4 separate regions of the Homo sapiens genome follow, and all the other regions are linked to region 3. The links come from fine-mapping of genetic effects on gene expression. A gene starts in region 3. Each other region holds a variant in brackets. All regions are shown on one strand. Distances are between the middles of the regions. Region 1 overlaps CAPN9 (calpain 9). Region 2 holds the start of LOC124904546 (a long non-coding RNA gene). Region 3 holds the start of CAPN9 (calpain 9). Region 4 holds the start of MIR1182 (microRNA 1182).

Region 1 (8,104 bases), 41 kb after region 3:
TGGCTATATAGCAGAGAAAGAAAAAGCTTTTTCGAGAGAGGAATTCAAGCAGGCTATGGAGCAACCACTTGCTAGAGATATTTACATAACTAAAAAGAGCCAAGTGCTATAACCAAGACAATGGGGAAAAGGCCTCAAAGGCATTTTAGAGACCTTTGCAGCAGCACCTCCTCCCATCACAGGCCGAGAGGCCTAAGAGGAAAAAAATGGCTTCATGGGCCAGGCCTAGGGCCCCACTGCTCTATGCAGCCTCAGGACACTGTTACCTGCATCCCAGCTGCTCCAGCTCCAGTCTCTGCTCAAAGGCACCAGATACAGTTTGGGCTACTGCTTCAGAGGGTGCAAGAGTGCAAGCCATAAGCCTTGACAGCTTCCATATGGTGTTAAGCCTGCAGGCACACAGAGTGCAAGACTGAATGAGGCTTGGCAGCCTCCACCTAGATTTCAGAGGATGTATGGAAAAGCCTGCATGCCTAGGCAAAAGCTTGCTGCAGGGACAGAGCCCTCACAGAGAACTTCTACTAGGGCTATGCAGATGGGGAAATGTGAGGTTCAAGGTCTCGCACAGAGTCCCCACTGGGGTACTGCCTAGTGGAACTGTGGGAAGGCGGCCATCATCCTCCAGACCCAAGAATGGTGGATCCACTGGCAGCTTGCACCTTGAGCCTGGAAAAGCCACAGGTACTCAACAACCCATGACAGCAGCCAAAGTCACAGGGACAGAGCTTCCCAAGGCCTTGGGATCCCACCCTTTGTACCAGTGTTCCCTGGATGTAGGACATGGAGTCAAAGGAGATCACTTTGGAGCTTTAAGATTTAATGACTGCCCTGCTGGGTTTCAAACTTGCATGGGGCCTGTAGCCCCTTTCTTTTGGCCTTTTGGAATGGGAATGTTTACCCAATGCCTATACTCCCATTGTATTTTGGAAGTATAAAATGGAATTTGTATATCTTGGAACTTGATTTTGATTTGACAGGCTCATAGGTGATGGGACTTGCCTTATCTCAGATGAGACTTTGGACTTTGGAATTTTGAGTTAATGCTGGAATGACTTAAGACTTTGGGGGTTATTGGGAAGGCATAATTATATTTTGCAGTGTGAGAAGGACATGAGATTTGAGGGCCCATAGCAGAATGATAGAGTTTGAATATGTGTCCCCACCAAATCTGATGTTGAATTGTAATCCCCAGTGTTAGGGGTGGGGCTTGATGGGAGGTGTTTGGGTCATGGGGGCGGATCTCTCATGGCTTGGTGCTGTCTTCACGATAGTGAGTTTGCACGAGATCTGGTTGTTTAAGGGTATTTGGCAACTCCCCCATACCACCCTGCTCCTGCTTTTTCCATGTGACTTGCCTGCTCCCCCTTCACCTTCTGCAATAATTGTAAGTTTCCTGAGGCCTCCTTAGAAGCAGAACGGATGCCAGCACTGTGCTCCTGTAAAGCCTGTAGAACCATGAGCCAATCAAATCTCTTTTCTTTATAAATTACCTAGTCTCTGTTATTTCTCTATAGCCATGCAAGAATGGTCTAACACAATGGCTGTCCCTCTTATTTACATTCTGAGCAAGGTCTGAGTGACTAAGGGTGGGGGTGTCAATGCATGGGGTCTGCAAACTCTGTGAAATGTAAACAGCACTGAACAATAAGGGATTCAAAGGGACAGAACCTTCCCAGGCTCTGGGCTCTTCAGCTCTGCAGATCCCAATGGGAAGTTAATCCACAATTGAGGCAGTGTGTTTTTCTGCCCCTACAGGGATATGGATGGAAATGTAGACATTGACCTTCCTGAGGTGAGTCTTCTGATGTTGCTATGGAGTATGGGATTCAGGTGATGGTTCTGGAAACCTTCCTTCTAATCACAGCATCATGTAAAACTCTGCAGTTCAGGGATGGTTACATGCAATCAAGTAAGCATCTATGATTCTAACCTCCTGGAGACCAAGATGTGTGTGTTCTAGTCTGTGCTCTTCTAGTCCACAAGGACCTGGCATGGGAGTGAGGTGGGTGCTTGGTATAAAGTTCTGTTCGATGTCATCTTCCTCTGTGCTACTGTCAACTGAAATAACAAACACAGAGACACTCTCTAAAAGAAAAGCTATTTATTTAGGGATAAAGCACTGCAATGGGAAGGTGCATGCCATAGTAAACTATGCACCTATTTGGGGAGGTAAAGGAGGACAAAGGTTTTTAAAGAAAAAATGAGAAGGATTACATAATTGTTTTGAAATAATTATCCTTGGCTACAAAGATCAATAACAAAAGTGAAGCCAGTCTGATGTTGGACAGGCAGTTGCTAGGCAGAGGTAGAAGTATTTTTGTGTATGGTTGCGAGGGCCTCTGTGAAAGGTTGTGGGTTTTGCAGCCTTTTGTGATATTTTTGTTATCAGGCAAATAAGCATGAGAACCTTCTGGCCTTCCCGAGCTCTATTTGTCAGGGTTTTCTTAACATTAGTGACTTCATTTTGACTCAATAACTTTCACACTACCAACTCCACCTGAGAGAAGGCTGCCGCTTCTGAAGTGGGTAGACTTTTAATTGTATTTTAAGAAATCTAATCAATGAAAAGAAAACCAGAGAGGCAGGGAGATGTTTTTTACTGTGGACTCAGGGGAACACATTACATCTCCCCTATGTTATGTGGTGTGGAAGGGGTGACATGGGGGTGGCTTTACCCTCGTCCAAGGGCTGGAGGACTCGCAAGAGGCCCTGAGATACTATAGCTGGAAATAGTCTGACACGTCCAGGGACAGCAGAGATCTGCTTTTAGGAGGGAATTTGCTGTTCCATGCTGGGGCACAGCTTATTAATGGTGCTAAAAAACCAAAGAAACCAAAAATCACCCAAAACATTTACTGAGCTCTTTCTATATACCAAGCCCAGAGCTTAGTGGTAGAAACAGACTCTTGCCTTCAACGATTTTACCAGCTATCAAAACAGATGATGAAGTAAGTCATTCCAGTCCAGGGTGGTAAGAAGTAAGCCAGAGGAAGGGCAGGAAGCATGAAAATCCAATGGCCAGGACCTAACTTAGGCACGGGTCAAGGTCCTTTGGCCTCCTCGTCTGTAAGGCAGAAGGGCTCCACAGGTCCAGCTAATAAAGTCCTTCTAGTCTCACCTTCTAAAAGAGCCTTCATGAGAAAATGTTCCTCACGCTACAGGACGCAGCTTGTGCACACTGCCTCAGGAGGGTGACATGGGGCTGGGCACACAGGCTCCTGGCTTCTTTCCTGCTATTTTTGTCATGTTTCTTTTTTGTGGATCATTTTGTGCAAGTTTCTTTGGCTGTTTTTTAGCCTCCAAAGCCAACTCCACCTGACCAGGAGACAGAGGAGGAGCAGCGGTTTCGGGCTCTGTTTGAACAAGTCGCTGGTGAGGTAGGACATGCCCCACTTCCATCTCCCCACCAGGCTGAGGGCCTGGACCTGCTTCCTAGCAAAGGGTTGCAGTCGTGGGGTTGGTCAGCAACGTCATCCTGAGGCATGATGGAGCTTGTTGCAAAGTAAGACCAGCACTGATCATTCAAGGCCCAAAGACCACCCTGTTTACAACATTTACTTACACAGTCTGCGGCTGTGGATGGGGCCAGTGAGCCCAAAGAAGCTTGGAATAGGCCCAGACGCTTTGTTTTTTAGTTCTGTTTTGCTTTAGACAGAGTCTCACTCTTTTACCCTGGCTGGAGTGCAGTGGTATAAGCCTAGCTCACTGCAGCCTCAAACTCATGGGCTCAAGAGATCCTATCACCTCAGCTTCCTGAGTAGCCGGGACTATAGGCACATGCCATCATGCTTAGCTAATTAAAAAAATAAATAATAAAGAGTCTTGCTATGTTGCCCAGGCTGGTCTCAAACTCCTAGGCTCAAGCAATCCTCTGGCCTCAGCCTCCCAAAGTGCTGGGATTACAGTCATGAGCTACCACGCCTGGCCCCAGGTGCTTTCTTTGGGAGGCTAGAGCAAGCCTTGAAGAGGTGACTCCTTTGAACTCTGCCTGAAAATCACTGCCATTAGAATACTCTGTTTGCTGTAGTAAAGGGGATCATGTTCAAGGAGGTCCCTATTCAATTGCAACTTCCTGTCCCCCACCCTATCCTAGCTCTTTCCACTGCTCAGCTTCCTTTTTAGGGACACTGGATGGAGCCTCACACAGATCCAGGCTCTTCCTCCACCTGCTGGGGTCAGGGGAGGGAAGTCTTTCTAGAAACTGCCCCAGAGGTGCTCTCTTGGAGCCATAAATACAATGAGCTGATGAACTAATTCATGTCAAGGTGCTAATGACTCTATTAGCTTCATGTGTTTCCCCAAACTGGGGTTCCTGAATTATGAAAGGGGTCACCTGGAGGGGTGATATCTAAACCTAGGGGCTGTCTGATGGTAGTATATTAGGCACTGCAATAAACAGGCAAGGCAGGGAGATTAGGGGACCACAGGATCGGATGGAGAAAATGGGGGCTCATGTGACTGCTTAAAGCACAGCAGGAAGGTGGCTGAGCGCAGCCCTGGGCGGGACAGAGCATGGTGAGGGGGGAAGGCAGTGGTGACCTCCCTGCTCCAGGTGCTATCTGGAGCATGCTGGGTCAGACCCAGCAAGACAGGCTCAGAGGAGTTAAAGAGGTTCATGCGGGTGCGCAGAAGTTGTCAGATGGAGATCCAGAGTTTGGAAGGGAAGCGGTGAATGTTGCAGGAGTTTCAGTCGACCTTTATTAACAACCAAAAAGTACCTCTAGAGTTCAGCCCTCCTTGACTCATGTCCTGCTTTTCTTCCAAGTAGTTGGATGACTTGGGCACATGGCTCCATTTCTCTTTCCTCCTCTTTCAGTGGGGGCCTGGCTGGGGCAGTGCTTTCTTACCAACACCAAACATCCCAAACCCCCATTCCCCAGGCCCAGAGGCTTCAGGACGGACATGTGTTAGAAGCACTCCACAGCATAACACA[C/T]GGCTAGCGCAAAACCCTGACTAAAATGAGGTCTATGTCAGTGCTACTCAAACACACATGTGCATAAAGTCACCTGGGCATCCTGGGAAAAAAAACACAGATTCCTCATCAATAGGTCAAGAGCATCCTGGGCAACATAGGGAGAGCCCATCTCTGCAAAAATAATCAGCCCAGCATGGTGGTGCATGCCTATAGTCCCAGCTACTTGGGAGGCTGAGGTAGGAGGATTGCTTGAGCATGGGAAATTGAGGCTGCAGTCAGCTGTGGTCACACCACTAATACTCCAATCTGGATGACAGAGCAAGACCCTGTATCAAAAAAAAAAAAAAAAAAAAAAAAAAAGCCTGAGTCTCAGGGCAAGGTCTGAGACTCTCCATTTCTAACCAGCTTCTGGGGTGGGGGCTGCTGAGATTTCCTGGAGTGCCTTAGATCCATGATTCTGAAATTCACCCTTATTCTTAATTCTAAATCAACTCCTAGGTCTTAAAAATAGGACCATATTCTCAGGTCCTCTGATTTCAAGATTCCCTGGGGTAAGCCCCAGATGCGGGACTATTTTAAAGCTCTGCAGGTGGTTCTACTGTACAGAGGAAGACTCAGTCTGGTTTTCCCAAACTGCCTCCAACATAGGAATCATCTGAGGAGCTTAGGACAATTCCAGGAGTTGGTTCTGACCCTCAGGGAAGCTGGGAAACCACTGCCTTGCCCTGCCCAGCTTTTCATGCGCTTTCCTGGGTTGGGATGTCTCTCAAGTTAGGCTCTCTCCTAGTTGGGCTGGCATGTCCCTAAAACATGTGACATATGAGACACATAGCTGCAGCTACACAGGAGATAGGTACATCTGCCCACAGCAGGGTCCTGAAGGCTGGTCTGTCACTGGAGCCAAATGAAGCTCAGAACTGATTTAAAACAAAAATAAACTATAAAAGAAGGTGCCAAGGGCTATAACAAACAATTGTCTCCACTTCAACAGGACATGGAGGTGACAGCAGAGGAACTTGAGTATGTTTTAAATGCTGTGCTGCAAAAGAGTAAGTGCCAACCCCATCGGGGTCCTGGGGCACCTATGGAGGGACAAGCGACCACACTGCCTGGGTCCCCTCCCTGCTCCTCCGAGCCGCAGATCTGCTTCCCAGGGCTGATTTGTAGGTAGACTTTAAAAATAGCTTTCATTGTTTGTTTTCCTGATTCCAAAAACGATGCAGGTTTATAGTAGAAAATTCTTAAAAATGCAGAAAAGCCTAATGACAAAGATAGTCACAAATGATCTCACCACCATAAATAACCACTCTTAACATATGTGTATCTGCATGTATGTACATGTGTGTCATATGCGTAGACATATAATGTTAGAATGTTTCATCACTCCAACAAGAAACCCTTTACCCATTAACAGTGTTAACCCTGTACCCATTTCCCCCAGCCCCAGGCAACCACTCATCTACTTTCTCTATAGATTCTATTTACATATTCTGAATATTTTATATAAAAGGAATCATAGGCCGGGTGCGGTGGCTCACGCCTGTAATCCCAGCACTTTGGGAGGCCGAGACAGGCGGATCACCTAGGTCAGGAGTTCAAGACCAGCCTGGTCAACATGGTGAAACCCCATCTCTACTAAAAATAAACACACACACACACAATCAGCCAGGTGTGGTTGTGGGCACCTGTAATCCCAGCTGCTCGGGAAGCTGTGGCAGGAGAATTGCTTAAACCTGGGAGGTGGAGTTTGCAGTGAACCAAGATCACACCGTTGCACTCCAGGCTGGGCAACAGAGCAATACTCCGTTTCAGGGGGAAAAAAAGGAATCATACAATATGTGGTCCTTTCTGACTGGCTTTTCTCACATGGTGTGATGTTTTCCAGGTCCATCCATGCTGTAGCATGTATCAATGTCTCATTCCTTCTTACAGCCAGACAACATTCCATCGTATGGATGGGCCCTGTTCTGTTTATTCATTCATCTATTGGTGGCCACGTGGGTTGTTACCGGTTTTTGGTCATTATGAATAATGCAACTGTAAACACTCCTATACAAGTTTTTTGGGTGGGCATGTGTTTTTACTTCTCCTGGGTATATAGTTATGAGGATGGTTCCATCACAATGCAACAGTCTATGGTTACATGGTGGCATAACCATCCTCTTAATTATATGTTTAGTTAAGAGGATTGCTTAACTCTATGTTTAATGTTTTTAAAAACTATCCAACTGTTTTCTAAAGTGACTATTTCACATTTTCACCAGCAGCAGTATGGGAGTACAAATTTCTCCAACAAATTTAAATCCTGCCATTAAATATGCTGCAAAAACATGATTCCTAAGGGTCGTATAATACTTCATTATATAGACATAGCCTAAGGTATTGACCATGCCTCTCTATTGGTCATTATTTCACTTCCAAATTTTTGCCACTATAAATAATATGATGACAAAAATCTTCATATGTTATTCTTTGCTCGGGGTTCTTAGAACTAGAATAAATGGATGAAGGCGTATTCCCACTTTTATTGCTTTTTTCACATTTAGCCAATTTTCCTTCTGAAAGGTCATGTTAACTTCTACTCCTACCAGCATCATAAGAGAGTAGCCACATCACAGCCCCCAACAGCCCTGGATTTAGCCACATTATTGGGCTTTCAGCAGATGGGTACATAGGTTTATCTTATCGGGTCAACTGAATTCAGCTTTCATGTGCAATTTCAGAAAAGGACATCAAATTCAAGAAGCTAAGCCTGATCTCCTGTAAAAACATCATTTCCCTGATGGACGTATCCTTCCAAATATTTGAGCAGAAATAGACATGGATCCTGGGCTTTAAGCACAGTAGAGTAATCTTCAATAGTGCAGACTCTCCAAGAACATGACATCCTTAGCCAGCAGAATAGTCTTCTTCACAGAAAATAACCCAAAGCTGGGGGACCCCCATGCTGAAATTGGATCAGAATCAAGATGCACAAGACTGCCTAGTGGTGGGGGTGGGGAGCTTTTGAAGGGACTTGGGGGTCTTCTTGCCACTTTGGGATCCCATCCAAGGGAACAGAGTTCTGTTTTTGTGAACTTTCCGGGACCACCCCCATTCCACTTCTGCCGTTTCCCCTCTTCAGAGATTTGTGGTTTAATCATTAAAACCACTTCCCCAGGGCCCCAAACCTGTGCACCCAGGCCAGCC
Region 2 (8,104 bases), 57 kb after region 3:
AAAGAAAGAAAGAAAGAAAGAAAGAAAGGAAAAACAAGAGAGACCCCTAGGTCCACCTTTATTTATCATTTACTTTAAGGTAAATGATAAGTAATGTCACTAAAAAACATGAGGAAGTGTGATGGCTGCCCCTGGTCCATGGTGGAAGGAGACAGTGGGAAGGTTTGTTACTCAGCGGCCCCCTGGCTAGTCAAAGGCTCCAGAGCACCAGCAGTGTGGAGGAAGTATTCCAGTGCTGCAGCTTCAAGGTAGAAGTGTGGACACCTCTAACGCAAGTGTCCACAGGTGTAGGGGCTGGAATAGGCTCCTGCCCTGCCCCATATCATCACCCTGCAGTACAACAGTGAAAACCATTGCATTCTCTCCCTCTAAACCTACCATCTTTACATCTGGCTGCATGTTAGCATCACCTGGGGAGATTTAAAAATCCTGATACCCCAGCCACTCCCTAGATCAATTAAATCTGAATCTCTGGAGGTGAGGCCCAAGCATTGTTTTTCTTTAATCCCCTTGGTGAGTCCAGTGTGCAGCCAGGTCTGAAGTATCCATGTTTTAAAGTCCCTCTCCTTTTCCCCTGACCCATCCTAGGAAGCAACAGGAGATTTTCCTGGCTGAGTTGGCCTCACCTGCAATCACTTTCCTAAAAAGGCCTGTGCACCTTTCATTACAGTAGCTCTCATACTATATACACTGTGCCCAGGAAGGAGGACAGAGAAGGGAGAAAAAAACCATCTCATATAATCACGTTGCCCCAAGTCACCATGCTGTAATAAACAAGCTGTTGGGAAGGAGGAGGCAGGGTGGACTCGGGAGAGAAAATGAGGAGGAATTCCATGCTACTTCTCCTTCAGCTCACTTGTAACACCCCCCAGCTATGGAACCTGCTTCCACTTCCTGCAGCCCCTCCAGGGTGGAGGGCCACCTCTCTCCCAAAGGTGAGAGGACCCCTCATCAACAAGGAAAAGTCACTTAATACTGCCCTGCCCAAGATGCTTCAGCGAGGCTGTCCTCTTAACAGGGAGAAAGCACATTTTCCCGTCTCTGTCTTACCAACTGTGCTTGATATGAGCTCACTTGGAAAGGACTCAGGTCCTCCAGAAAATGTCAAGTGCTGAGAATTCATTTATTTTCTTTAAATGGTTTCCTGCTGAGACAGACATCCAAGTTGGCAGGCAAAATGATCAAATAGCAGATCTCCTGTGATATCAGCAAACTGGGGCCACTCCTGAGGCTGAGGCTGGAAGGGACATGGAAGGACAACGACCCCTCATCTCTCTCTCTCTCTTCCCAGTTCATCCATTTGACAATGAACATCTGAGGCTGCCTTGTAGAGATGCAGCCTGCCCAGCTGAATCTTGGCTTCTGGACCTTGACCTTCAGAACTTCTCTTGGTGTGGAACCATTACGCCCAGGGTTCACTCCCCTCTCATCGTCCGGCCTTCTCCCTTCATCTTGATCTGGGAAGAATGAAATGAACTCAGCTACACTCTCTGATTTTGTGCTACTCCTTTGTAAAGTCACTGCCTTAAGGGGGCTGATGGCGCCACCTGTGCCTTACATCCAGGTTCAGGCATCACTAGCTTTCCCACACTCTACTTTCCTTATTTCCTTCCATTAAGAATTACTCAGAGTTCTAACGCACAGAATCCTGACTTCCATGTAGCTCCAGTCATTGTGATCAGACATCCTTTATAAAACATGTTTTTATAAATGTGTATGTGGAATAAGATGAGGAGGAAAAGGAGTGAGGTCATAATTTAGCATTTCTGCATCATAAGTGTGCTTCCTTATCAGGGAAGACATCAGGTAGTTCCGATAATTGGACAAGAGTGGATCTCCGATAAGAGTGGATCAAGGTGACAATCTCTACCTCCTCCTACGAGAGGTGGTAACTAAAACAGTCACTATCCAGTCCAGACATTCTTTGTGTCTGAAGACTTTGGGTCAGAAAAGCTGAATGATATTATTTCTTCTCAAGGAGTCCAGATTCTGGTGAGGTTTGATCTTACTCATCCCCAACATGATGGGGGAAAACAGACCCGAGAATCCTCATTATAGCTCACTAGTGCTGAACAGGAGTATCCACTGAACTAGAATAATGGGAGGTAACATGAGAAGATACTGGCTCAATACATGCCAAGCCCCACATTCTTACTGGTACACTTGTGGCAGATGAGGTGGAGGATGGGAGCGGGAGATACCGAGAGGGAAAGAGGGAGAATGGCTGGGATGAAGATCAAGTTAGAAGTGGAGGCTGAGCATGGTGGCTTACACCTGTAATCCCAGCACTTTGTGAGGCCAAGGTGGGAGGATCACCTGAGGTCAGGAGTTCAAGACCAGCCTGGCCAACATGGCAAAACCCAATCTCTACTAAAAATACAAAAATTAGCTGGGCGTGGTGGCGGGTGCCTGTAATCCCAGCTACTCAGGATGCCGAGGCAGGAGAATCACTTGAACCCAGGAGGCAGAGGTTGCAGCCTGGCGACAAGAGCGAGACTCAGTCTCAAAAAAAAAAGAAGTGGAGCTTCATCAGAACCCTGTCCCTGATCGTGGCCAAGGTACCATGATCTTCTCCTTTACCTTCCAGCCCTTCCCTGGGTTCACGCAGCAGTGGATGCAGGACAAGAGCCCTCTCTCAGGAGCAGGCTTAGGACCAAGGCTCTGTGCTGGGGCACGCCAGTACAACCCCAGACATGCCATCTCCTGTGCTCGGCCTGTGCCCACTCTCATCGATGCACACTGCTGCCATATTGTTTGTTAGATGTCGTGAACACTAGCCCTGCTCACAGGTAAAACTTGGAAGGGGACTCACCATATGAGCTTCTTTGTCTAGTGTCACTCCCACAGGGTGCCTTTAGGCCTTTATGTCCAGGAGCACATAACTGTCTCTCACTGATTTTTCCTCTGCTTGAAAGGTACCCAGGAAATGAAGTTTATGAACTGGGCGTCCTGTTTTCTTTCCATCCATATGTCCCTGGGAAAGTTATTAAACTCTCTGAGACTTAGTTTCCTCCACTCACAAGGATGGTAATTTCTGCCTCACTGAGATCTTATGATGAATAAATGAAATTGTAAGTAGAAGGTGCCAGGCACAGTACTTGACACATAACAGGCCCTCAGTGCAACTAAGGCCCACTGTTGTGAACCAGTGTTTTCTTAAATGTCTAAAAGAGTTACATACTATCACATGCTTTCGGTTTACCTCTGTTCTTCATTGCAAGAATCCAAGAATTATAGAACCAGTCTTGAAGGAGAGTTCAATAGAGCTCTACAGACTATTATATGATCATGAGTTGAGAACAAAAAAAAGTGTATGAATTTAGCTTCTATTTGTTTCTGAATTACATGGTCTGATACTGACACCCAGAAACAAAGGAAGATGTTTCACATGCATGAGTTTGATTAACTATAATTAAAGTGATTTTGTAGCTTATAATTCAAACCAACAGCTTTTGAGTGTGAAAGGAATAATATTAGTTATTACACCAGGACAATAGATGTAAACTGGAGCTGTCCTAGGAAAATTGCGATTTATGGCCATTCACATTATGTCTATCACCACCTGCATAATATATGCTTTAGGTCTTGGCACCAAAATATTCGTGCCCTACTACCTTTAAATTAAACAGTGGCTGGGCATGGTGGCTCACGCCTGTAATCCCAGCACTTTCAGAGGTCAAGGCGAGCAGATCACGAGGTCAGGAGTTCGTGACCAGCCTGGTCAATGTGGTGAAACCCCATCTCTGCTAAAAATACAAAAATCAGCTGGGTGTAGTGGTGCGTGCCTGTAGTCCCAGCTACTCAGGAGGCTGAGGCAGAAGAATCGCTTGAACCCAGGAGGTGGAGGTTGCAGTGAGCCAAGATCGTGCCACTGCTCTCCAGCCTGAGGGACAGAGCAAGACTCCATCTCAAAAAAATAAAAAATACAAAAAAAAAAAGAGAGAGAGAAAACAAAATAACTGGGTGTGGTGGTGCATGCCTGTAATCACAGCTACTAGGGAGGCTGAAGCAGGATAATTGCTTGAACCCAGGAGGCGGAGGTTGCAGTGAGCCGAGATCGTGCCACTGCACTCCAGCCTGGGTGACAGAACGAGACTTTCTCAAAAATAAAAATAAAAATAAATTAATTAAACAATAGTATACACAAGCTATCTAACGCTACTGCTTCACACCAAAATCACATGAAATACAAAGAGATACACACCTAGACACATCAAAGTCAAACTGTT[G/C]GGAAAAAAAGAGAAAATCTGAAAAGCAGCTTGAGAAAAATGACTCATCATGAACAGGGAACAATGCAATTAGCAACTGACTTCTCATCAGAAATGACAGACGACAGAAGGCAGTAGAATGACATTCCAAGTGCCAAAGGAAAAATCTTTCAATCAAGAATTCTGTTTTTCCACTAGAACTGCAAAAATGAAAGCACAATAAAGATATTCCCAGTTAAACAAAGACTGAGAGAATTCATTATTAGCTGACCTGCCACTGGAAAAATATTAAAGGATGTATTTCAGGGTGAAAGGAAATAAAACTAGATGAGACTGTGGATCTGTAGAAAGAAATGAAGAGCACTCAAAAGGATATCTGTGGGTAAATGTAAAAGACTATATAAACGTGTTATCTTCCATTCTAATTTTGTTTGAAGACATTAGATTATATAAAGCATTAATTATTGTACTATGTTGTTGGATTTATAACAATAGAGAGATATATTATAAAGGAGAGAGGAAGAAACAAAGTATTGTAGCAATATTTCTATATTTTCTTAGAATTAAGTCAGTATTACCTCAGGTAATGATATTAGATATTAGATGGTTATAAATTAAGATGCAGATTGTAATCTACAGAGCAACCACTAAGAAAATAACTCAAAAATACAGTAAGATAGCAGAGGAATCAAAGCAGAATACTTAAAAAAAATGTTTAGCACAAAAGCCGTAAGGGAAGAACAGATTTTAAAAATAAGACATAGAAACAAAATGGCATACCTTAATCCAGCCATGCTGATAATAATATTAAATATGAATAAAAACTACAATCAAAAGGCAGTGATTGTCAAAATGGATAAAAAAGCAAGATTCAATTGTACACTATCTACAAGAGATACTTCATACAAAAAGACAAAAGTTGGAAGTAAAAGGATGAAAAAGAGAGTACCATGCAAATACTGGCAATAAGAGAGCTTGAGTGCCTACATCAATATCTGAGAAAATAAAATTTAAGACAAGAAATATTATTAGAGAGAAGAAATGATATTACAGTATCATAAAGGGTCAATACATTAGGAATATATAATAATTACAAGTGTGATGGTACCTAATAGTAGAGTCTCAAAATTATGAAGCAAAAATTGATATAATTGAAAGAAGAAACAGATTATTCAGACTTAACAATTATAGTTAGAGAGTTCAATAACCCATTTTTAATAACTGATAGGACAACTATTCAGAAAATTAACAAGGAAATAGAAGACATGAACAACACTATCAACCAACTTGACTAACTGACATTTATAGAATACTTTACCCTCAAGTAATGAATACACATTTTTTCAAAAGCACATGGAACTTTCTCCAGGTTAGACCATATACTAGACCATAAAACTAATTTTTAATATATTTAAAAGAATTTAAATCACTCAGAGTATGTTCTCCAGCCACAAAGGAATTAAATTAGAAACAAAAATAAGTTTGGGAAATCCTCAAATTTTAGAAATTAACACATTTCTAAATAACTATGAGTTGAAGAGAAAAATTACAATGGAAATTAGAAAGATTTTGAACTGAATGAAACAAAAATAAACTATGTATTTACACATGTCTATACACATCCACATTAACCGGATTAAGCTAAAGCAGGACCTAGAAAAGTAGAGTGTTCTCAAAACAATAATTTAAGCTTCCATCTTAAGAAATTAGAGAGAGAGGCAAATTAAACCTTAAAAGGAAAGAAATAAAGACTAAAGCAGAAATCAATTGACTAGCAAAGAGAAAAATAATAGAGAACATCAAAGAAACAAAAAGGTGATTCTTAAAAAAGATTGCAAAATTGATAAACTTTTAGCTAAACTGACCAAGAAAAAAGACAGAAAACACAAATTAACAATCAAGAATCTAAGAGCAGCCGTCATTGCTGACCCATCAGAAATTAAAAGAATGATAAGTGAATATTTTAAACAACTTTATGTCAACAAATCAGACAACTTAGATGGAATGGAAAAAATCCTAGAAAAAGATAAATTACCAAAACTACCTTCAGAGAATACTGAAAATCTGAATAGACCTATGCATTAGTCCACTGTCACAGTCTAATAAAGACATGCCTGAGACTGGGTAATTGATAAAGGAAAGAGATTTAGTTGACTTACAGTTCAGTATGGCTGGGGAGGCCTCAGGAAACATATAATCATGGCGGAAGGTGAAGGGGAAGCAAGATACCCTCTTCACAAAGCGGCAGGAAGGAGAAGTGCCAGCAGGGGAAATACAAGACACTTATAAAACCATCAGATCTCATGAGACTCACTCATTTTCATGACAACAGCATGGGGGAGACTGCCCCCAAGATTCAATTAACCTCCACTTGGTCCTGCCCTTGACATATGAGGAGTATAAGGATTAAATTCAAAGTGAGATTTGGGTGGGGACACAGAGCCAAACCATATCAACCTACAACATGAAACATATCATACCATATCAACCTATAATATTTTGGTCCTGAGACCAAATCCTTTGGACAGTGCCTGGAGAGAGCCTCAGGCCACAGTCATGTTTATCTGAAATACAGGGCCTACCTCCAGGCTCCTCTCCACCCTGTCCTGTGCAGAGCTACGCAGTGCGCTGAGGGGCCAGGGCTTCAGAAAGCCCAGAGCATGTGACCTGGTTGGCAGAGGTACCAGGGTCATTGGTGCCAGCCCAATTCAGTGTACTGGATCATTAGTAGAAACAAAGCACCATTCTACTGAGAGCCAAGACCGCCTGCCAAGTACCAGTGCGAAGGCTGCCTCGTCACCACAGCTGTGAATCAAGAGTAGGCTGTGCTTGCTACTGATGCCAGCCTGGGGCATTTTCCCAGCCCCACAGTGCCTTTCTGAAGTGGGAGAAGGAGAAGCAGAGGGTTAGACTCTCCTTGGTGCCTGAACAGTGCCTCTGATGGAAGAACGTAGCTCAGTGATATTCCCAAGGAGGTTTATTGGTTCATTATCAGTAGGACTCTCCAAGGAAAGGGAACAGCTGAACCATATGGAGCAACTGCAGGCTCATGTAATAGAAGCAGCATTGAACTTAGAGTTTGAGTCCTGTATTCTAGTCTAGAACTTACCTCCAGCTAGCTGTGTGGACTTAACCATATCACTTTACCTCTCTGGGCTGCCTTGCACCTTGAAATTATGTGATTCCTTCTCTCACTCTGGGAACTAGAAGGCCAGGTCAGTGTGGCTCAGTCCTGGTCTAATTGGATGGATGGAGAGAAGGTAGCAGAGGTGGGCCCAGCAAGCCTGAGAATTCATCTTACTCCCTGACAGAGCTCAGAGTTCTGAGAAGAATGTGGTCACGCAGAAGACTCTCTGTAGGCCACATCAGGACCAGGCTTCTTGGAAAGCTGTACTCCTCCTGCCTTTCAACATCTTAACACACTCAGCTCCTCCATTATACACACTTACCTGAACCCAGCTTGTCTGTATGGGTTTAGCATTCTCTCTTGTCCTTCCCAGTCTACCCTCTACATTCTAAAAAGAGAGTCTCCCACCCAGACGATCTCCTTGCAGTCACTTTTCAATGCACCAGAACAGCTTCCTTAGTTGGAACAGTGAACAGTGTGTTTTCAAACAAAAGGGGCTCACTGCCCAATGTGCTAGAAGCCAATGCTATGACACTGTGTTTCTGAGAAAAGAAAAGCTTTATACTGCAAGCTGCTTCACAAGGAGACTAGAACATCGAGCTCAAATCTGTCTTCTTGTGCTGGCTCCAAAGCAGTATTTTTATTAGAAAAGATTCAGAGGCTGTATTCTGAGATCAGTAGGTGATTGGTGGAGGAAAGAGGAGGTCTAGAAAGTCCTTGGGCATGCGTTTTTATCTCTCCATGCCTCCTCATGGGTCCCCTATGCAAA
Region 3 (8,104 bases):
CACCCTCCTCGCCAGCCCACCCCATCCTCCACACTGCAAGCCAAGGGGCTACAAATGTCGCAGCCGGGTGGGCTCACTCTCAGCCCATCATAGGGCTGAGATCCCTCTGCAGGATCCAGGCTGTTTGGCATATCCCTCAAAACCCAGGCCCTGCTGTAAGGCCTGGACCGGGTGGGGTCCTAGAGGTCATCTCCCTGCACCCATGTGAAGCTTCTGAGCATTTGTCCTTGGGGTTTTGCCCCATGGCATCCCAGAGCCACCCAGGCACTATGTTCACCTCCTGCTGCCCTTCAAGATGAACAAGAAGAAGAGAAACAAAGGGAGTTCGCCACAGGCCTGAGTGTGGAGGAGACAGAGAAAGAACAGCACAGAAAAGAGAGGCCAGGAAGGCCCCAGATGCCAGGTCAGGTTCATTTCATGTAGAAATCACTTCAGCAGATTGCTCTGCTAAAGAGAAGAAAATACACTTAACATGATGCATGGCCCCCGCTTGGCTCAAAGCTGATTGCATCTCTAGGCTAGCGACAAGCTGGCAGAGCTTATTAAAAACAGTGCACATGATTCTCTGCCCAAGCTCAGAGCCCTTTCCCTCTGAGCCACTCAGGGCATTTCCCAGTGTGGGTGAGGAAGTGTGCAAGGCCTGGTAGACCTTAGATTGCATGGCTGCAGTTTCTGTAACTATTGTTCATCCTGAGAAGTGAAGGTTTGGAAAACTAAATGAAGACACCCAAGAATGCCATCTGCTTTCTTGAGGCATTGGTTCAATGTTTACTCAGCAAATGTGCATCGTGCTCCTGCCCTGCACTGGGCTGAGCTGGGAGCAGGATTAGACGCTAAGACAAAGTCATGGAGAAGTCCGGTGCCATGAGCTCTGCAGGAAAGATGGACCCAGGGCTCTGTGGGCAGACATTGGGCAGGAAGAATGATGAGGCTGTAAATCCTGAGAATGCACTCCCTCCCGCAGACATTCTCAGAGTCCCAGAGTGTTAGGGGGCAGGAGGAATTCCAGCTGTGGTTCTGGAGGATTGTTAAACCTTTTTGGTGTGTTTCCTACTCTGAGGCATGTTTGTTTTACTCACAATGATGATGCAATTCTCCAATTACCTAGCAACTATACTAAGACTCTAAAGAAAAAGGCAGGTTCTTCCAATACATAGATAAGTCCCAGGTGGAAGGACAAGACCCCAGCCTGGAGAGGTGTTTGTATCGGGAGGAGAATGAGAACGTAAATCCCTGAAGCTGGGAGTGGGTCTGGTGCTGAGCAAACCCTTTACAGTTCTGGTCAGTGCTGAAATTTACTTCAAGGTCCTTTCTCAGTTGCTGGGGCATTTGAAGGGGATGCTCCCAGAGATCTGGGCTGGTAATCATTTCCCTGCCGAGGTGTCACCAGAAATGGATGGCCCTCACATTGCCACACCTGTCTCCCTAGGTTGCCCTCCTTAATCACTTCGAAACAGAGCCGTCTGCCAGGGCAGTGGGCAATGGGACACTCCTGGGCAGCTCCATCATCTCTAGCCAAGAATCATTTGGACTGGCCAGAACTGCACTCTGGTCCCAGCCAGAGGACCCCAGTTCCAAAGTCCTTCATTGTGCAAACAAAGAGACAAAAGAGATGCCTTGCAAGTTGAGGCAAGTCAGGCTCAGAAGGAGACCATGAAATTCAGCAGCATCTGTGGGAGTGGCAGGGGGTGCAGAGAGGATAGGGGAAAGGGAGGAATCAGCAGCTCCTGATCCCCTCCATGTGCCAGACTTTGCAAGTGGCTTTGCTTCCACAAACCCGCCATGCCTCTAGCAGGCAGCACCGATTATCCTGATTCACAGCTTGGAAGCAGGGACAGACAGCATGGATAACTCGCCCAAGATCACCCCAGGGAAAACTGGGAATTTGTCTTAGTTCATTCAGGCTTCTATAACAAAACAGCACAGACAGGGTGGCTTATAAACAACAGAAATGTGTTGCTCACAGTTCTGGAAGCTGGAAGTCCAAGATCAAGGCACTGGCAGATTCCATGCCTGGTGAGGGTCTACTTTCTGGTTCCTGTGTCCTCACATGGTGGAAGGGAGGAGGGGGCCCTCTGTGACCTAATCTTTCATAATGACACCAATCCCATTCATGAGGGCTCCACTCTTCTGACCTAATCACCCCTTAGAGGCCCCACTTTCTAATACCATTACCTTGCAGGGTATGGGTTCAACATACAAATTTTGGCGGGGTCGGGGGGGTGGTGCGGAATACAAGCAATCAGGCCATAGCAGAGTAAAACCCAAATATCCCCAACTCTAATGTCTAGACCTCCCCTGTAAAACCATATGCAGGATCTACTAGACAGAACGTGTGTCAGACTGAGTGCACACTCCTGGGAACTGTGAGCTTATATAAAAATTCACATCATGGCCTTTTAACTGTACCCATTAACTCAAGACCCCTTGTCTCCAAACCTCAACTTTGACTAGTTAGAGAATCACACAGAAATCATTATAAAGTGCTTAGAACATCAGAGTTTTCACGTGGTGACTAATACTTTTATTGACTTATTTTTATTGATACATAATATTTGTACGTATTGATGGGGTACATGTGCTATTTTGTTACATGTGCAGAATGTGTGATATCGAGTTGGGGTATTTAGGCTATCTATCCCCTCCAGTATTTATCATTTCTTTTCTTCTTTCCTTCTCTCTCTCTCTTTTCTTTCTCTCTCTCTCTCTTTTTTCTTTTTTTTTTTTTTTTTTTTTTGACAGAGTCTCTCTCTGTCACCCAGGCTAGAGGGCAGTGGCACGACCTCAGTTCACTGCAACCTCCACCTCCCAGGTTCAAGGGATTCTCCTGCCTCAGCCTCCCAAGTAGCTGGGATTACAAGCATCCGCCACCACACCGGGCTAATTTTTTGTATTTTTAGTAGAGACAGGGTTTCATGATGTTGGCCAGACTGGTCTTGATCTCCTGACCTCGGGTGATCAACCCTCCTCGGCCTCCCAAAGTGCTGGGATTACAGGTGTGAGCCACCACACCCAGCCTGTATAATCATTTCTATGGGCAAACACATTTATCAAACCACCTCCATCCTCTAACATTTGTTTTTTCTCAGACGTGAGATCCTATTTGTAGGACTATAACAACAAGGAACTTTATTAATATGATGTCTAGAGAATGAAAGAGGCACATGTGCCCTAGAGGAAGAGCCGATGTCCTCTGTGAGTTCTCCTCTATCAGGGGTCAGGTTGGATGAAATCTAACCCCCACCTGCCTTTGTAAATAAAGTTTTATTGGAACACAGCCACACCCATTCATCTGTGTCACATCTACGGCTGCTTTGTCACTACAACAGCAAAGTTGAGTAGTTGCAGCACAGACTTTGCGTGGCCCACAAAGCTGAAAATATTCATGGTCTGGGCCTTTACAGAAAAGGTTTGCTGACCCCAGTGCTGAATCACTATGGGATTGCCTGTGCAGGAGCTGTGCCAGCTGTGTTCACATAATGCATCCTGCTTTCATTCACCAACCTCCCTTCCGACTACAAAACTCTGCCATTCTCTGATGCAGGAGATGGGACTCAAGACCACACCGTGCACTTCTCCGTAAAGCCACCTCCTGGACCAGTTGGGTTTCTTGCTCCTTTTCCTTCTGAAGCAATCCTCTCTCTCCCATGAGGCCCCCTGAGCGCACTAAGCAGAGGTGCCGCCTCTGAGTGGAATGTGCCAGGCCCCAGAGCTGCCTCTGAGTCTGCAGGAGTGCAGAGTGGGCAGAGGGCTCTCTCTGCTGTTTTCCATCAGGGCGTGTCCCATCTCAGTCTAACAGGGAGGTGCCCAGAAAATAGGTGGAGGTGAGGGCCACTCAGCCCAGTGGCCCTCTGAGCTGTTCCTTCTTGACCGGCACACACAGCTCGCTTCTTCACTTTCTTTTCCATCCACTGCCGGACCCAAGCCAGCCTTCCAGGGAGCAGCCATGCCTTACCTCTACCGGGCCCCAGGGCCTCAGGCACACCCGGTTCCCAAGGACGCCCGGATCACCCACTCCTCAGGCCAGAGCTTTGAGCAAATGAGGCAGGAGTGCCTGCAGAGAGGCACCCTGTTTGAGGATGCAGACTTCCCAGCCAGCAATTCCTCCCTGTTCTACAGTGAGAGGCCGCAGATCCCCTTTGTGTGGAAACGACCAGGGGTGAGTGGGGCGAGCAGGGGAAGGAGCATAGATGAGGCCGAGGTTCAGCAGCCCCCGCAGGAAGTGGAAACAGGGGTGCTGGGGAGGGGCCGGCTACGCTCAGTGCAACTGAGGTGCATCATCCCAGTCTACCGTGGAAAGCTTTGCAGTTTGGAGGCAGAAAATAATGTACAGGCCTGGGATGCTCTGCGGTGGGGACCCGGGGCATCTGGTTGTACCCGCTCCCCGGCTCCAAGCTGTCTGACTCCCACCGAGGCTGAGGACCTGGAGTCAGAGTGGGTCTTGTCAGCAGGTGATAGGCACGAATCAAAACCTTATCCACAAGGACAGGCCCCCACCCTGTGTGTGGTAACACTGAGATCACGTTATGCACAGTGTTCTGTGGCTTCTGGCCCAGAGCTGAGGGTGCTCAGTGTGGATGGATGTTTGGCTCAGCAAGGTCTCAGCAACCGGGTGACAGATGGAATACAAGGGAAGCAGGAATCTTCTCCCGAGAACCATGCACCCCCCATTCCCAGAGATCAGGGTGAACAGTGCCCCACCTCTGACAGTCTGGAGGTGTCGTCCCAAGAGGCACCAGCTGGTCACTGGGTCCCAAGAGGTGCTAGCTTGTGCCTGGGACGCCATGTCAATATTTGCGGTGCTGGATTAGTCAGGGCTCTACCTCTGACCCGGCGCCAGCTGGGCTGGCTTCCATTCCCTCCAGGTGGGTACGGGCCTGGGAGTGGCTCCTGTGGGGTCCGGTTGCTTTTGGGCAAGGAGGGGCAGTACAAGGGATGCTGGTCCTACAAGTGAGATCCTGAGTGCCTGTCTTATCCTGACAATTTGTCTCATGCATATAGTCATATCACTTCATTTCCCTGAGCCTCAGTCTCCTCACCTGTAAAATGGGAACAATAATGGCTAATGCAGGCCAATGTCTAGCACACAGAAGGTTTCCAGTACATTACAGCTATTGTCACATTATTACTATTACTGATACTATTATTATCATCATTACAATGATTATTAGCTCTGAGTCTCATCTTACATATGAGTAGCAAAGGACTCATCATAACTACCTCCTCACTATCTCCCAACATTAAAATAATGTTGATGATTAAAAACAATTTTTTTTAACGCACATTCACAAAACTTCTGGGCTCTTCAGGGGCAGGGCCAAAGTGAACCTAAGTGGGTGTTTCCGAAGTGGTAAGGGTTTTATTGCTATTTCCTGCAGTAGGCAGTGTGGGGTGTATGTGTGTGCACGCACTTGTGTGTGTAGGAATTTGACTGTGTATGTGCATGTGTGTGACTGTGTGCACATGTGTGTGGATATGCATAGGCGTGTATGTGGGGGGTGGGTGACTGCATGCATAGGCACACAGGTGCTTTGATCTTCACCTGCCAGGTAATTGATCCCACAAGGTGCCATGTTCATGGGGAAATCACAGTGAGCATTCAGTGGCCCTATCGGAGTTGGGGTGAAAGCTCCCAGGCACCTTCCTCACCGAAGCCACGCTGTGATTGTTTTTGGTTCTCTGCATATGGCCAATTGCAGTGTGAGGTCACGGCACTGGCAGATCACGTGGGGTTGCACTTTACAGACAGGATTAGTAGGTCATGCTCTGCTAAGTAAGAAAAAGGACATTTCCAAACTAAAAAAGCAGAAGTTACAAGACATAAAAGAGTGACCCTCTGAGGGGCACCGCCCACGACCATTAGGTCTCCCTGGGCTTATTTCCGGCCTCGGCGCATGAACAAATGGGCGCGTGGGCAGCTGCCCAGGCTGCAGGCTGTGGGTGCATTTTTAACTGTGGGCAGAGATTTCCCTGCAGTTGATGTCAGGAGCCCTGGGAAATAGAGTTAGAGAAATTGATTTCCTGGGCCCCTGGTGAGCAGAGCCCCTGGCCAGAAGCAGCGGCTCTTTCTGTTTGATCCAGGGTTTCATACAGATGCTCATGTTCTCTACAGGCACTTGATATGAAAAGGTTGGAAGCACTTTTTCTCTTCCTTAAAATGGGGACAATAATGCAACTTATGGGGTCCTCATGAGGGTCAGCTGCGTTACCATGAGTAGAGCACTTAGCAAAGAGCCTGGTGTGTAAAGAATCAGTGCTGGTCCTTGTTATTTCTACTGCTGTCATTGTAACCTAACACCATCGTCTCCTGACTCTAGGAGGGCCCCCATCCTTGCAGTCTATATTGACATCATCTAGTTTAAAGTGTAATCTGTACTCTACAACTCACTTACTTTTTGTCAAAGTTAGAATTCTCCAAGATAAAAGCTGGACGCACAAACCAGCATGGAGGGCATCTTTGTCTCCCCCTTCAGAAGTCTCCCCTCCTGGGACCAGGGCCACCAAGGCCTGCCCAGCGACTCTAGAGTCCCAGATCTCTGCTCCAAGGGGCTGTCTTCCTTAGTATTATCTCCTCTGGCATTGCCCCAAACGCTGGGTGAGGCCTTCATCCACAGGCCAGGGCCCTTGATACACACAAGCCCCTGCCAAGATGCACCCCGACCTGCCACCCAGCCCATGCCCCTGTACCAGCCCTCTGTCCCTTCTTCATCCCACTGTCTCCACCTACGGCAGACCCTTTATTGATCTTAACCCAGGTCTACTGTGTTGCTGTCGTTCCCACAGACTCATTTTCAGAATCTGTTCTGCCTTTTCCTTTGTCTGCAACTGAAGATTGTCCCTTTGGTCTGGTCCTCATTCTCGTACCCCTATCTGTTTCTTATTTAGGGGAGTTAGAAGCTTTACATCATATCTTACAGATTTCTGTAAAATCAGGAACAAAAGGGCTGAGGATGAGCATGGAGACTCTTCTTGCAGCATAGAGTCGCAGGGAGCCGGGGGGTAGCGGGCCATAGGGAAATCACAAGCATTGCCAGGTTCCCTGCAGACCTCTGTGGCTTGGGCATCATTTGCAGTGGGACTCAGCATTACACGGTGCACATCTCAGCAGCCCGTGGGACCGTGGGGCTGGACGGCCCTCCTCCTCAGCACCACCTTCTTGTCAAACACAGCTGTACTTGGGGAGGGTGGGCAGAGCACAAAGCCAAGGGGACATTGGAGGGCAGTGGACAGCCAGGCTTGCCCTCAAGGGAGCCCAGGGCAAGGAGTGCACTGAGGGTGACTCAGGGAACTGGCTGGGAGGGGCTGGGAGGCAGAGAGGGTGATAGGCTCAACCTGGAGAGAAGGTGAGATCACCCCCAGGTCTCATGCAAGGGACTGTGGACCTGAGTGGAAGTGGGTGCACAGAAAGAGGAGGAGGGAGTATCGGGTGAGGTCTCCCAGCCTGATGGGGAACAGCCACCATGCAGTCCATCCCTCCTTGTCTGCCTGTACCCATTTATTTTTGGCCAGGCAATTCCCCCCCACCAATTCTCAGTGTAAATCCAGGACACCTCCCCGAAAGTGCCCACACCCCTCTAGCCCATGTGAACAACCCCTGTGGCAGACCTGTGCACAGCGTGGCATGTGACCACAGCCTCTCCTGCACGGTGAGCTTGCCGTTCCCTGTGCTGCTCCCCTGACCCCCAGGAGGGGTTGTCAGTTGTTCTGGGACAGCCCCAAAGGCCCCATGGCCTCCACAGTGCTGGGCACATGACAGGGATCGGCACATAGCTATGAACAGCAGCGTCTGGCATCTCCAGACCTTGCTGGAAATGTGGCTTTTCTTCACTGGAAGGCCATGTGAAAGACAGAATGAATGAAAAAGAAAGAGAGAAAGAAAGAGAAAAAGAGAGAAGGAGAGGAAGAGAGAGAGGGAAAGGGAAGGAAGGGAAGGGAGGAAGGGAGGAAGGAAGGAAAGAAGGAAGGAAGGAGAGAAAGAGAAAGAAAGATAGAAAAAAAGAAAGGAAGAAGAGAAAGAAAGAAAGAAGAAAGAAACAAAGAAAGAAAGAAAGAAAGAAAGAGAAAGAAAGAAAGAAAGAAAGAAAGAAAGAAAGAAAGAAAGAAA
Region 4 (8,104 bases), 280 kb after region 3:
CCCTGTGCCCGAGGACCGTCCACAACGGAGGTGCTTTCTTGCAAGAGAAGCAGCAAATGATGACAGCGTGTCCAGTAGGAAGGGCTTCCCAACAGTCACATCCCTCCCAAGACCCTCTAGATGGACTCCAGAATCCAGTCGCTGCTGGAGAGGGAGGAGACAGGCAGTGACAAGTCCCGAGGAGGGCCTCGGTCCCTCCTGTCGTGCAGGGAGTTCTGCTCCTGGAAATATTCCTCCTCTTCATCGAAGAAGCCGTTCTCCAGAGCGTAAGTGCAGTCTGGGCTGGAGGCTGCCTGGCATGCCCCCTTGTACTCCTGAATCGACTCGTAGAGGCTGTACAGTTGGCAGAGCAAGGACATGTCCAGCTGGCGGAGACCAACCTTGAGGGAAGGGGTGGGGAGGTAAAAAACGAGAAGTCAGCACTTGAGTTTAATTTCAGTGGAACACTCAGCCGGCGATCTGCGCCTGCCAGCACATTCCTTCCACACGGCGCATGATTCAGAGCATCACTCGGATGCTTTGGATTTCCAGTTTTGAGAACACCTTAATTGTGTTATGCCCATACCTCAGACGTTACTCATTGAGTCCAGTGAGGATCGCATCTGTGGGGCAACCAGGGCAGCCTGCAGAATTTACCCTGGCGCTCCTGAGTGTGCCTGATGAAGCAACAGCACTGCATATTCTAGTGGCCCCACCTGCTTTCACTTTGGACGCCAAGAAACGAGTGTGTCACTTCCTCTCCCAATCAGACTCGGAGAAGACCCACATTGGCCTTCCCTGCTACTGCGTTAGGATCTGACTGATGCAGTCATTCTCAACTCCCAGGGGCAACAGAATGCCCTTTGCCAGTGACAGCAGCTGGCCAACGTGACATCCCCCTGGAGCACCCACCTCTGTGCAGTTCAGTGGTCAGAGGTTACACTGCCTCCCTCTCCTCCAGGCAGGGTCAGTCTTATCCCAGATGGTTCTGGGATCCCTCCCCAGAGTAACTGACTGAATATGAGGAAGCCCTGGAAGATGAAGGGCTCTACAGTTCCTCCTGAAAACTAGCCCCACAAAAACAAGCAGCAAAAGAACACAGAACATTTATAAAAGTCATATACTTGTTTATCTTCCAGTTCCTCCCTCCCCCACCACCCATCCCAGAGAAAAGAGCACGGTCACAGTCAGAACAGGAAATGCATCGTTTACACCAATACCAAAGAGAGAACAGTTAAGCCTCTTGGAAATGCAGCATAGACCAGCATCGGTGCCTCTTAACCTTTAAAGTGCATGAGAACCACCCGGGGATCTTGTTCAACAAGCAGACTCTGATTCAGTGGGTCTGGGGCCACTGGATGGCTGTGCTTCCACCAAGCCCCTATGGTGATTCCGTGCTATGCTGCTGTTCCACAGACCCTGCTCTGAATGGCAACGGGAAGAAACTCAAGAAGACACCAGGGGACCTGCCTTCGGCTTCTTGGCCCCTGAGCAAGGTATTTATCACCTTCATCTCCGTGCCTTGGTTGATGGCAAAATGGAACAATAATTTCTCTTATGGAGCTATTAGGGCAATTCAATATCAATCCACTCAATAAACAGGATTCTAATGCCTCCCGGGCTAAAGCACTAAAGATGCATGGGTACAGCTCTCCTGGGCGGCTGGAGAAGGAGCTTCTTCTCTGGAGTGCGCCGGTGGCAGCGCCTGCAGACCTAACTAGCTCCAGGACTTTAAAATACTGGAAATCTGTCCCGATCCAAATTCTTTTGCAAGCCAGATGATTAACCAGAGGGCACGAAAGGTTGAGAACATTCGACTTCCCTGCAAACCTTGGTATAGATCACTTCCTTTTCTGTTAGGAAACGAAAGGCACCAAAGAGCACAATGAGTACAAGAAAGCGTCGAGGTGGAGCAATAAATTCTAGACAAGCCCAGAAGCGAACACGGGAAGCAACCTCCACCCCTGAGATTTCCTTGGAAGCAGAACCCATAGAACTCGTGGAAACTGCTGGAGATGAAATTGTTGACCTCACTTGTGAATCTTTAGAGCCTGTGGTGGTTGATCTGACTCACAATGACTCTGTTGTGATTGTTGACAAAAGAAGAAGACCAAGGAGGAATGCTAGGAGGCTGCCCCAGGACCATGCTGACAGCTGCATGGTGAGCAGTGACGATGAGTTGTTGTCCAGGGACAGAGACGTGTATGTGACTACCCACACTTCCAGAAACACCAGGGATGAGGGCGCTATAGGCCTCAGGCCCTCGGGTACTGTCGGTTGTCCTATCTGCATGGACAGATATTCAGAGATCGTGCAGAATAGACGTCTCATCGTTTCCACAGAATGTGGCCATGTCTTCTGTAGCCAGTGCCTCCGTGATTCCCTGAAGAACGCTAATACTTGCCCAACTTGTAGGAAAAAGATCAACCACAAACAGTACCACTCCATTCATATATGAAGTATTCAGAGACGCCCAGGAGAGACGGATGGACAATCAGGTTCTCCAGTGGTATCTGCCTCCATTTTCCTGAGCTCAAAAAGACTGTTTTGAAACCCACGTCTGATATGTAAACTGCTCTTTTGTTTCCAACCCCTTCCTTTTGTTATCTCCAGTTTGATGCTATGGCGCTGGACCCAGGGCCCTCCCAGGCCATCTCTGTTCCTCTGGGGTGGTCCAGTTCTAGAGTGAGAGAAAGGGAGTCAGGCACACTGGGAATCGTGGTTCCAGTCTGGTTGCAGAACCTGCACATTTGCCAAGAAATTTTCCGTTTGGAAAGTTTGCCCCAGCTTTCCCGGGCACACCACCTTTTGTCCCAAGTGTCTGCCGGTCGACCAATCTGCCTGCCACACATTGACCAAGCCAGACCCGGTTCACCCAGCTCGAGGATCCCAGGTGCAAGAGTGGCCCCTTGAGGCCCTGAAAAGACCAATCACTGGACTTCTTCCCTTGAGAGTCAGAGGTCACCCGTGATTCTGCCTGCACCTTATCATTGATCTGCAGTGATTTCTGCAAATCAAGAGAAGCTCTGCAGGGCAATCCCGTTTCCTAAGAATGAAAAAGTGCAATAAAGGCCATTCGTTACCTACTTTTCAGCAGCCCACCAGATGTAGCACTATTAGTGTCCCCCTCAGAGGCTTAATGTTGCCTGTGGAGCAGTGCCCATCCCAGCCCATTTCTGCCCACCAGTTGTTCTCAGGAACCTTACCCATGCTCCAGCGTCCTTCACCTGGCACAGGACATGCAAGATAAATAGGACAGGCACATGTTTGGGTGTCCTCTCTTTTCTGATAAAATCCATCCGGTGTTTGCCACACGCCCTCCAGTCCTCAGTTCCCACTGCCTAACATCTGCCCCCCGTGTAGATACTGAGAGGTGGTGGCAGTAATTGTGGCCTTATCAGCCGCTCAGTTCCAGCCTTTTGCCCAGGTCACTGTTGCCCCATGTTCGGAGAACCTGGCCCACCTGACTTGGCTTTCTCATCCTTCCCAACCCCGTGCCGTTTATTTCAGAAGCCCACTGGGCTTGGATGCTTTGGGCCTTTGACTGCTCCATAGGTTATGACTGGTGAAACAGGGGCCCAGAGGACAACCTCTCCTTCACTCCACAGGTAGGTGGGAGCCTCAGGTTCGCTCAGGGGCAGCAAAGTGGCCCAAGCTGCCCCTGACAGCACAGGGCCTGGCGGTGGCTAACGAGAGAGGCCTTACAGTGCCGGCATGCCTCCTCTTCCGCTGCCCTCCTTCCTCAGAGGGCTTCAAGCAAAACAAACAGCCTTTTCGTGTGAAACATCTTCAGGGTGGGAAAGGGGCCACTTCTGGCTTTGTTAGCAATAACTGACCTTCAGTTTACCCTTCTGAAGGAGAAGGGACTCAGCACAGAATTCACTTTAGACGGGGCTGAAGGAGTGTCCCTCCTCTATGTGAAAAGAAAATTGTTTTATTCTTCATTCTGACTTTTTAACTGTTTGGCTCACTTCCAGTTAGTTTGAATGAAAATAATAATTTTCTACTTGGAGTTGAAGAGGGCAGAATCCTCAGCTCCCATCATTGTGATGTGTAGCGTGTCTGCCCCCTGACTGGACATCATTGCCATTAACTTTCTTCTGGGCATCACGGGAATGTCACAATGCCCAGACTTGGAGCAAGGCAACCTTGGAGTCAGTCCACTAATAAAATATGGTAACACCCATTTTAAAATTTCTTTAAGTTTTATCCTTGAAGACAACTTCAGTGGTTAATTATAAAAGTTGTGTACTTCGTCCTAAATTAAATTGATAAAAAGATTTAAAAATGTGTTTTGTTTCTACTATTCAGAAACTGCAAACTAGGGAAAGGTTGGTATGAAAAAATGTCTTTCCTTTTTTCAATGTACATAGTTCAACTCTTTCTTTGTTACATTTAAACTACATCCATGGATATCAGTCTGCTTTGGACTCCTCTGCTAGTGTTAAAGATGGAAATAAAACCATTAATTTGAACCAAAAAAAAAAAAAGATGCATGGGTACGCGCATGTAGAAAAGCACACAGAAAGTGTCAGAGGATTTACAGATTTTATAATTACCGAAATGACTCGTTTACCTAGCAATAAGATTTTCCACATAAGATAGTATGGCTTTCACAAAAGGAAGCTGAGGCCTGGTAAAAAGTGATCATCTTGTAAATAGATTGGGTGTTAAATTCCAGGTTTACTCTTCATACCCTCCAACTTTTCTAAATTGCCAAGTGAACACTGGCTGTCTCTCTACTATGGCCTGAATAGACCATAAAAATCAGAACTATGTTTTATTACATTGCAT[G/GCACACACACACA]CACACACACACACACACACACACACACACATTTAGAGATGGAGTCTTGCTTTGTCACCCAGGCAGGAGTGTGGTGGTATGATCATAGCTCACTGCCACCTCAAGCTCCTGGGCTCAAGGGATCCTCCTGCCTCAACCTCCCATGCTGCTGGGACTACAGGTGCATACCACCATGCCTGGCTAATTTTTTAAAGAAATTCTTTGTAGAGATGGGGCCTTGCCATCTTGCCCAGGCTGGTCTCAAACTCCTGGGCTCAAGTGATTTGCCTTGGCCTCCCAAAGTGCTGGTATTACAGGTGTGAGCCACTGTGCCCAGCCTACAGAGCATCTTTTGCTAAGACACTCAAGAAGACTTCCAGATAGAGAGGTGGGTTCTGTTGCTACCACAACTACTCTTTTTTTTTTTTTTTTTTTTTTTTTTGAGACAGAGTCTTGCTCTGTTGCCCAGGCTGGAGTGTAGTGGTGTAATCTCGGCTCACTGCAAGCTCTGCCTCCTGGGTTCACCCCATTCTCCTGCCTCAGCCTCCCGAGTAGCTGGGACTACAGGCGCTCGCCACTACGTCCGGCTAATTTTTTGTATTTTTAGTAGAGACGGGGTTTCACCGTGTTAGCCAGGATGGTCTTGATCTTCTGACCTTGTGATCCACCCGCCTCGGCCTCCCAGAGTGCTGGGATTACAGGCGTGAGCCACCGTGCCCGGCCACCACAACTACCCTTGACACCAGAATTTCTAAACTTTCTTAGGAAGAGACCTCAGCTGCAGGTCGGGAGCGTGGTCTCCAGGCCCAGCTTTGCCGTCCTCTGTGGCTTGGTTGAGGTCCCGACCCTCTGCCAGCCTATAAAATGGGGGATTTGGGCTCGCTCATCTATGGTTAGCTCAAACACTTTGTGACCCTATATAAACTGTTGCTTCTCTGTCCTAAATGAACTGCAAGCGAAAGACAGACAGTTTCCAGTACTGTACTCAGGAGCAAACTTTATTCAATGGCATCTCAAAAGCATACCTTGAATAGGCAAGCAATGGGCAACTTAAGAGATGCCCAGGCCACCACACCCTAAGGCAGACACCACTGCTTGCTCTTTTTCTTGATTAGAGTTCGAAAGGATGTGTGTCTGTCAAGAGGGAGGGAAACAGCATATCTGGCATTTGTGTTTTAAAAATTATCCATAGTTTGGGAATTTTCTATTAAAAAAAGGAGAGACAGGGAAAGAAAGAAGGAAGAAAGGAAGGAAGGGAGAGAAGGAGGGAAAGAAAAGTCAGTCAGTTTAGGAATTTTCTATTGAAAAAATAAATAAATAATACAAAAAGTACCCAGATGATGCTGATGCTCAGTTCCAGCAAAGAACCAGTGATCTTGACACAAATATCTTTCTGATTTTCCTGGGCCACTTATATTTATTATCCTGTAAGCCTGGAATTTCAGGCCAGCCAAGCAGAAGAGCACAGAATTAAAAGTGCAGGCTCTGGAACCTGCCTACCTCCCTGCCTGGGTTCAGATCTTGGCTCCGCCACTCACCAGCTGAGAAACTGTGGATAAATTGCTCAGCTCCTAAAAAAAAAAAAAAAAAATCAATAGCCTCTATTCTCATTGTTAGTATTTCCATGGTTTCTTTTCCACTCTGCTAGTGGGCAGACTCACCTCAGGAAGGAGCAGCAGGTACAGCCAGGCTCTGAAAACAGAAGCGCCCCATCCCACTGTGTTCCTCCCGCTCCTCTCCCAATCCAGCACTGAGGTGGTACATGAGAAGGAACCAGATGGTCACCTTCGCTCAGAAGACAGCCAGCATAGTCAGGCAGGGTGACAACGTGCCAGTGACACTGCCTCATGAGGAAGGGAAACTCTCAAATAGGAAAAGACTTGGGATATCTTACCTCAAACCCCAAAAGGAGGACCTTCCAAACCACTGCACTCCTCTCCAAACCAATACGATTATTTTATACAAAGTCAAAGCCTCCCAGCCTGGAGGCCCCACAGAGCCCTTGATGCTGGGTGTGACAGCTGAGCATCCAAACAGATCTAATTTAACTCTCTCCTAACTACTACCCTTTAATCTGAAGGTCATTTACTTTCCACCACCCCATGCCCTAAAACAAAAACCAAACCTGTGTTCTTCTCTCCAAGCTAAATATCTCAGGCCCTTCCCCTATTTTCATTATGACCTCTCGTCCACTAACACCCGTGGCCTTTCCTCTAGACTTACTCCTGTTTTCCAGGATTCCTCTGCAGAATTGCATCTGGATGCCATCAACATGCCCCCAGGAGTCTGACTCGGCCAGCTCTGACGTCCCTATCTTTGCTAGGATTTCATAAAAGAAATAATAACTTTAATCGAGAAAGCCACACTCTCTCGGGGTCACATAGTATGTGCTCAAAAACCATGGAAGAAGATCATCTGGAATCCTAGATCTACTCTCCTGCTGAGTCCCTCTGACACCAGTAGGGTGGGTAAACCCAAGACTCGATTTCTTACCCCAGGAATGAATAATGGAAAAACACCTAAGTAGCAGTGGGCACCCTGGTATCAGAGCAGGTCTGCTTTTCTCCTTCCTGGGATGGTTTGAGGTCGGCCCAGGTAAACACAGGAGCCTGAACGCTTCTAGGTTTCAAAGGCTCTGACTCCCCATGACCCCATTCCAGCCAGACACGTGGCTCCAGGCTTTTCTCCTGACAGTGCCATTTCCAAGGTATTCCCAGGCCCACCGAGGTGATGCACCCGGCAGGGAGTCGAAAGCAAAGAGGATCTCTCCCTGGACACTTCTGCACTGTAGCACCCAGATGACTCACAAAGCTGCCTTGTCGTCAGGTGGAACACTGGCCTAGAAAGGAATCCTGACCGCCTAGGAATACAGCGCAGCCCCGCACACACCTATTACACAACCCGACACATGGCAAAAGTTCAGACGGATTTAACAAGGATTAGACGCACACACATACATATGCACACGCACACACACGCCTACACACCTCCCAGCCTCTCAATGCCACTGTCTTCAGGCACCAGACTAAACTTCCTGATTTACCAGAAATCCTCTAAATCAGCTCGGAGGACATAAGGTAAGTCACTGCACAGTAAACCAGACTTCCTAGCCCGGGCCCCTCTTCCTCAGCTGTGGCTGTTTAAACAGCGACACTTAACATTTTCTAGAGGGAGGTGGAAGATCCGTAGGCAGCACTCCACCATCTGGTCTGACTGTTCTTCAGGCTTACGCCCTTGACTCCCAACCTGCACAGCCCCGACTGTCCCCCATGACACCCTCATCCCCACTGCATCTGTGAATGCTCCTCGACCACCCGCCCTGTACCTGATTCCCTCCACTCTTCAGACTGTG

What was found. PIP is the estimated chance that this variant, and not a neighbour inherited with it, causes the effect.
Region 1: its variant is fine-mapped to the expression of CAPN9 in nasal epithelium (TOPMed, PIP above 0.99).
Region 2: its variant is fine-mapped to the expression of CAPN9 in prefrontal cortex (BrainSeq, PIP 0.95).
Region 4: its variant is fine-mapped to the expression of CAPN9 in prefrontal cortex (CommonMind, PIP 0.95).

The regions. Positions count from the first base shown.
Region 1 is chr1:230,784,226-230,792,329 of GRCh38, forward strand. It overlaps CAPN9 (calpain 9), which reads left to right. Exons shown (of 20, transcript NM_006615.3): 12 at 1,756-1,792; 13 at 3,297-3,377; 14 at 5,907-5,964; 15 at 7,639-7,703. The region is part of intron 1 of CAPN9-AS1 (CAPN9 antisense RNA 1); the gene reads right to left. Among named protein-coding and RNA genes, the nearest start is that of CAPN9-AS1, 6.9 kb to the right of the region's middle. RefSeq lists an enhancer at 1-379. The variant C/T (reference allele first, on the strand shown) is at 4,934.
Region 2 is chr1:230,800,279-230,808,382 of GRCh38, forward strand. It overlaps CAPN9 (calpain 9), which reads left to right. Exons shown (of 20, transcript NM_006615.3): 20 at 1,292-1,711. The coding sequence ends at 1,318. It overlaps LOC124904546 (a long non-coding RNA gene), which reads right to left and starts at 6,838. Exons shown (of 2, transcript XR_007066937.1): 1 at 6,791-6,838; 2 at 1,105-1,457. The variant G/C (reference allele first, on the strand shown) is at 4,230.
Region 3 is chr1:230,743,551-230,751,654 of GRCh38, forward strand. CAPN9 (calpain 9) reads left to right here and starts at 3,838. Exons shown (of 20, transcript NM_006615.3): 1 at 3,838-4,159. The coding sequence starts at 3,947. It also overlaps a transcript of AGT not described here. RefSeq lists an enhancer at 7,143-8,104.
Region 4 is chr1:231,019,747-231,027,850 of GRCh38, forward strand. FAM89A (family with sequence similarity 89 member A) reads right to left here. Exons shown (of 2, transcript NM_198552.3): 2 at 1-380. The coding sequence ends at 117. It overlaps MIR1182 (microRNA 1182), which reads right to left and starts at 178; the gene lies at 82-178. It also overlaps the pseudogene LOC644006. The variant G/GCACACACACACA (reference allele first, on the strand shown) is at 4,774.